2 separate regions of the Homo sapiens genome follow, and region 2 is linked to region 1. Evidence: fine-mapped expression QTL. Tissue or cell type: whole blood. Region 1 holds a variant in brackets; the other region holds the start of a gene. All regions are shown on one strand. Distances are between the middles of the regions.

Region 1 (2,899 bases):
ACGTTGTCTTGGGTACATGGAGGCATTCATTAAATGGTGAGTGAGTAAAGGTGCATGTGCAGAAAAAACAGGGCCCAGCCTTAGTCCTGAGCTTATACCAGACTTCTCCCAAGGCTTTCCTTTGCCTGACAGTACAGCTCTAGCAGAAGAGGAGGGCCCATTTTCTCACCTCAGTCTCTCATTGGAGAATATGGAACATTTATTAATAGAAAGTAAGTTTCAGAACTGGAAAAGGGCCCTTGGAAATCAATTAGTCCAAAAACTTCATTTTTTTGGAGAAATTGTGTCCAGAAATATGACTTTCTAGGATCACCTGTCAGTACGTCACTAACTGAGTCTCTGCAAGGGCACATGGAAACTGGTCCACTGAGGAATGAGTCTTACAGGTTGCAGGCGCCCAGGCAGTTAGTGAAGATAGGATGCATTTCAGGTTGAGAGGGAAGAGGGTAAAATTGCTAATACTTTCCTGAATCAACCCCAGCTGGAGAAAGCTGTGGCTGCCTGGAGGGAACCGGAGGTGGTGCTTCACCTTCTACAGATAACATTTAACTCAGGCTAATCAGCACCCTAAAATAAGTGCCAAGCAAAAACATTTTGAAGAAATGCCTTTGTAAACAAGGGTTGTTCTCTTGTAACTCAGCCATAATATCCAAGAGTCCACAGCCGACTGACCTTTTGGGATGTATGTGTGCTTTGCTGAGGAAACAAGGGCAAGGATTCCAAAGTTTCCACCTCACCACTGAAGACCTGTAATCCCACCTTGCTGCTGCCCACAAGAAAAACAAAGTGCAAACCAAGCTTCCACGGGCACTGTGCCTGGAGAAGTAGACACACTGACTTGTAAGATGAGGCACAGCCCCCTTTGGGATAGCTGCCAGAAAACTGTACAACCTTCTGGAGATTGTAATGACTCAGGGGCCCTTTGGGGAAGGTAGGTATCCTGGAAAACACCTAGTCCCTTAGCTTTGAAATAGATGGCAGGTCAGGAGAGGGGGCAGTTCATTACATTTATTGAGTATCTGTTGTGTCTGGTACTGTGCTGGGAAATGGGTATCCAGCTATCCAGTATGAACAAAATATTATTGTCTGCTGCTCTTCCTTCTAAACTTTCTGTGGTGATCCCTACCGTACTTCACATTGACGTGTTCAT[T/C]TTGTTTAGGATTAATGGAAAGTTAGCAATATGCCGTCCATAAAAATGCATTTCGATTGACTTAAATATGTGGATCTGGCTCCTTAATTAATTGTAAATTCCTTGAGGGAAGAGGTTGTATTTTCTCCTTTCTTAAGAGTCCTCACAGCGTTTTGCATGACAGTAAATCAGAGAAAATACTCAATGAAGGTTGATTGAGTAGATGCCTAAAAAACAGTGTTTGGAGACAAATCAGGGGAGACTAGGGAGGAGGCTGAGAGCAAGCAAAGGTTTAGGACCCAAAAGATCAGCACACCCTACACATGGCAGCTACAGATACCCACCAAAAGAAAGTCTTAGTATTTATAATTCTTTTTTAAAAATTATGCCTGCATAATCCATGTGTAGCAGCATCATTAGGTGCATCATATTTGAATGTGAAAAGCAACAACATAAAAATCTTATCACTGAGGACCAAATTTAAATACCATTAATTTTAAGAAAGAGTCTGCCTTGATGATTGTCCTTGGTAAGTAAGAGTGTATTCAAATATGCACAGTTGTATTTTCAGCACCCTAGCCTTGATTTTGACACACGCAGGATGAGTTACAACACTAATTCTCTGATGTAGCTGTAAGCCTTTACTTAAGCAAAAAATGCTATAGTGATCAGAAATGTAACAAAAGCCCAGTTTTTAAAGGAGCCATTTGTTTTTTTCTGCTATAAGCATAGGTCTGCACTGGGTGTTTGGCTGAAACACATGTAGTTTCTAATAGAATGAGATGCTCACACTTCCTATTAGCAGAGGAGGGTGCTAAGATAAAGAATTTTAGGGAAGTCTGAGCTTTGCTTCTTTAGAAACCTGAAAAAAAAATTTTTGGAGACAAGGTCTGGATCTGTTGCCCAGGCTGGAGTACAGTGGCACAATCTTGGCTCACTGCAATCTCTGCTTCCCGGGCTCGAGCCATCCTCCCACCTCAGCCTCAGAAACCTGAAAATTTAAGAAAGAAGATTTTATTGGAGCAGGATAGAAACAGCTAAGGGACTTTTACTTGTTCAGTCCTGGTAAATGCTCACAGTTAATGAAGGGAGAGACAACTAAGTAAGATTAAATATTTCTTTTTTCTTTTCTTTTCTTTTCTTTTCTTTTTTTTTTTTTTTTTTTTTTTTGAGACTGAGTTTTGCTGTTGTTGCCCAGGCTGGAGTGCAATGGCGCGATCTCAGCTCACCACAACCTCTGCCTCCCGGGTTCAAGCGATTCTCCTGTCTCAGCCTCCAGAATAGCTGGGATTACAGGCATGCGCCAACACACCAGGCTAGTTTTGTATTTTTAGTAGAGATGGGGTTTCTCCATGTTGGTCAGGCTGGTCTTGAACTCTTGACCTCAGGTGATCCACCCTCCTCAGCTTCCCAAAGTGCTGGGATTACAGGCATGAGCCACCGTGCCCAGCAAGATTAAATATTTCAAACTACTTATGGTAACAAGATTGTATCTGTAACTCCTTGCCTATGTATTCATTTGATGTAAGAGTTTCTAGAAAGTAGAGAGAAAAAGCTGTATTGTAAGGTTAAAATCCACAGAAAAGGAGTTTCTTAATGCTTAGTGACATTGGAAGATTTCTAGTAAGAGAATACAAGAGAGCTCTTTGGAACTGGTGTTTTTGAGGTAAAGGGTGCAGGTACCCTGGGTTTCATTCTGAGGCAGAGGGCTGGATCTTAGGTTCTAGAAAAGGGTTAAGATGAGACCTGAACTTAAAACAGAGCTCCCAT
Region 2 (2,899 bases), 62 kb after region 1:
CAGCCTGGGACGCTGACGGGGACAGGAGAACCTCCAGGTTCCGTAGGGTAAGAGACATATGGCGGGGGCGGACCTTAGCATCGGAGGTGTGAGGATATAGGGATCGGGAATGGGGGATCTGGCTTAGGGGGATTGGGACTGGTAACTCAGGGGTCCCTGGAGATAAGAGCCAGCGGGATCCCGGGGGTTGGAAGCTCGGGACCCTAAGGCACAGTTTCGAGGGCTTTGGGCGCCTGCCAGTCGAGGGGGCAGTCCGGCCAGGACCTCCGCTGCCGGGGCTTCGGCCCAGGAGGGACTGCTCGGAGCTGGAGGAGGGGACCGCTGACCTGGGAAGGAGGAAAAGAGGAAGGGAAGGAGCCTAGAAGCCAAGCAGGCACTAAGCGAGTGCGCACCGTGTGTGCGGAGGTGTGTGTGTTGTGTGTGTGCGCGTGTGTGTTGTGTGTGTGTGCGCGTAGGTGCGCGCGCGTGTGTCTCATCTCGTCCGTCTGTAGGCGCTGGGCTCAGCGAGACGCCGGCGAGAAAGAAGAGGAGGCGAGAGGTGAACTGAGTTTGATCCTGCGGCGGCTACAAGTGGGTCCCGGGCGGGCTGCGGGCGGCGGGCGGCGGGCGGCCGGGGCGGGGCGGGAGGCCGGGCTGCGCTCTCCAGCTCCGGCCGCGGGCCCGGCCTCTCACCACGCCTCCGGCTTTGTGAGCGCGCGGGTTGGGGCGGGGGGGTGCTGGCGGGGCGCCCACGGCGCAGCCTCCCGCCTCTATATAAACACACGCATCGCCTCGCTTTGGACTCAAATTCACATTGAGAGAAGCTTTTAAAACCACCAGCCCTGAAATCCTGCCTCCTGCTTTTCCCCCTCTTTCATTCCTTTTGCCTTCCTTTCTTTTTTCCCCATTTCTTCCCCCAGCAGCAACTCCAGAGCCGAGAGACCGCGTCCCGGGACGGACTGCCTTTTCTTAATTGATACAATAGCCCAGCTCGGGTTTTCCACCTCCTCCCCCAACCCCACCCCGCCTCACCCCTCCCGCCCGCTGCCGCCGCCGCCGCCGCCGCCGCCGCCGCCGCCGCCCCATCGCCCGCCCGGGGCTCTGTCGCCGGCTGCGTCCCGTCCCGGCCGCGGCCCGCCGGCTCCGCACCCGCGCTCGGGCCGCAGCGCCCGCCTCGCCGCCTCGCCCGCCGCTCCTGCCTCGGGGGTGCTGCGGCGGCTCTGGGGCTCGAGCGCGCCGCCCCGGGCAGCCCAGGGACTTTTAGGCTCCGGCCTCTCCACTCGCCTCAGCCAGGGAGCTTTCTCCCTCGCCCCCAAAGTTTCTGGGTTCGTTGGAATTTTTGGATTCAGGAATTTTTTCTTTTTTTCTTTTTTTCACCTAGGAATTTTGGGGCCATACTGCAATACTTTTGACAAATCGACCGCACTTTCTCTCTGCTAGCTCTCTGCCCCCTTCTTTTTTTCCGAGCAGGGGAAGGGGCTTACGAGAGAGAGGCTCCCTCTGGACAAAGTTTTCCAAAGTTTTCCGAGTGTGATGGTAGCGGGGAGAGCAAACCCACCAGCTTGACTCACGGCTTCATCTCACCACCCCTTGAGCAGCCCCTAAGCCCGCTATAAAGGAACAAACAAACAAACAAACAAACAAAGTTGCACCCCAGTCGCCTCGTGTTTCCTCTCTTCTTTTAGGCAATTTTTTTCCTCCCTCTCTCCGCTCCCCTCGCAGCCTCCACTCCCTTTCCCTTGGCCCCTTCCTCCTTCTCTGTTTCGGCTGGAGGTGCCAGGACCCCCGGCCGCAGCCTCCCCTCCCCCGCCGCTCCGGTCCCCTCCCGTCGGGCCCTCCCCTCCCCCGCCGCGGCCGGCACAGCCAATCCCCCGAGCGGCCGCCAACATGCTCTTTGAGGGCTTGGATCTGGTGTCGGCGCTGGCCACCCTCGCCGCGTGCCTGGTGTCCGTGACGCTGCTGCTGGCCGTGTCGCAGCAGCTGTGGCAGCTGCGCTGGGCCGCCACTCGCGACAAGAGCTGCAAGCTGCCCATCCCCAAGGGATCCATGGGCTTCCCGCTCATCGGAGAGACCGGCCACTGGCTGCTGCAGGTAAGGGCGCGCTCGCTCCGCTGCACTCCGGGGTCCGCTAGCTGCGAGCGCGGGGCAGACGGAGCGGCGGGCCGGCCAGGGGGCGCCGGGAGCCTGAAGGCACTGGTCCCCGCCCCGCCCCTTCCCTCCTCTCTGCCGCAGCAGCCCGGGCTTCCCCAGCCCGCCGGCAGCGCGGTTCCGGGACCACTGGCGCCCGCGGCGCAGGTTCAGGGGGCTGGTAAGAGGGGTTCCCGGACCTGAGGGGGCTCCCAAGATGGACTTGCCTGGGTCGCGGCTGGCCTGGCAGGGGGCGTGGAGCGCCCCGGGGGCGCCTAGCGAGGCGCGGTCCCGGGGGAGGGTCCGGTCCTGAGCCGCTTTCGCCTCCCCTCGGTGCTGCAAGCCCCCAGTCGCCCTCGGCTTTCTGGGGTTGGCTGTGTCGCTGGGAGCCGAAAATTGAGTCGGGAGAGGAGGGGGCTGGTGGCAGCTTGAATTGCCGATTTAAAACTGTGTTCCTGCGGCGCCGTCGGCAGCGCCAGGTACAGTGTCCCTGGTCCGCGGTCCGCGCGAGTGTGTCTGTTTTGTGGTGGAAGAGGAAGAAGGTAACCCAAGGAAAAATGAGAATCCAGGGCTCTAGGCTTTCGGGGAAAAGGGTCTATTTACTTATTGGGTGGGGACAGTTTGGCAGGAGAGGGAAACTTGGGAGAGGTGAGTGTGGGATCCATAGAGAGAGAGTGCGTGTGTGCTTGTTAGATGCCGCACAACCCCACTCTGCTGGTGATAACGGGGGTGAGGCGCGTCAGGGACCAGACCCAGGTAGGTAATGGGGAGATTAACCTGGAGTTCACCTCAT

What was found.
Region 2: CYP26B1 starts here. The variant in region 1 is fine-mapped to the expression of CYP26B1 in whole blood (INTERVAL, PIP above 0.99).

Annotation. Positions count from the first base shown.
Region 1 is chr2:72,208,624-72,211,522 of GRCh38, reverse strand. The region is part of intron 20 of EXOC6B (exocyst complex component 6B); the gene reads left to right. Among named protein-coding and RNA genes, the nearest start is that of CYP26B1, 62 kb to the right of the region's middle. The variant T/C (reference allele first, on the strand shown) is at 1,151.
Region 2 is chr2:72,146,802-72,149,700 of GRCh38, reverse strand. It overlaps CYP26B1 (cytochrome P450 family 26 subfamily B member 1), which reads left to right and starts at 1,839. Exons shown (of 6, transcript NM_019885.4): 1 at 1,839-2,070. The coding sequence starts at 1,867. RefSeq lists enhancers at 1,950-2,451, 2,641-2,899.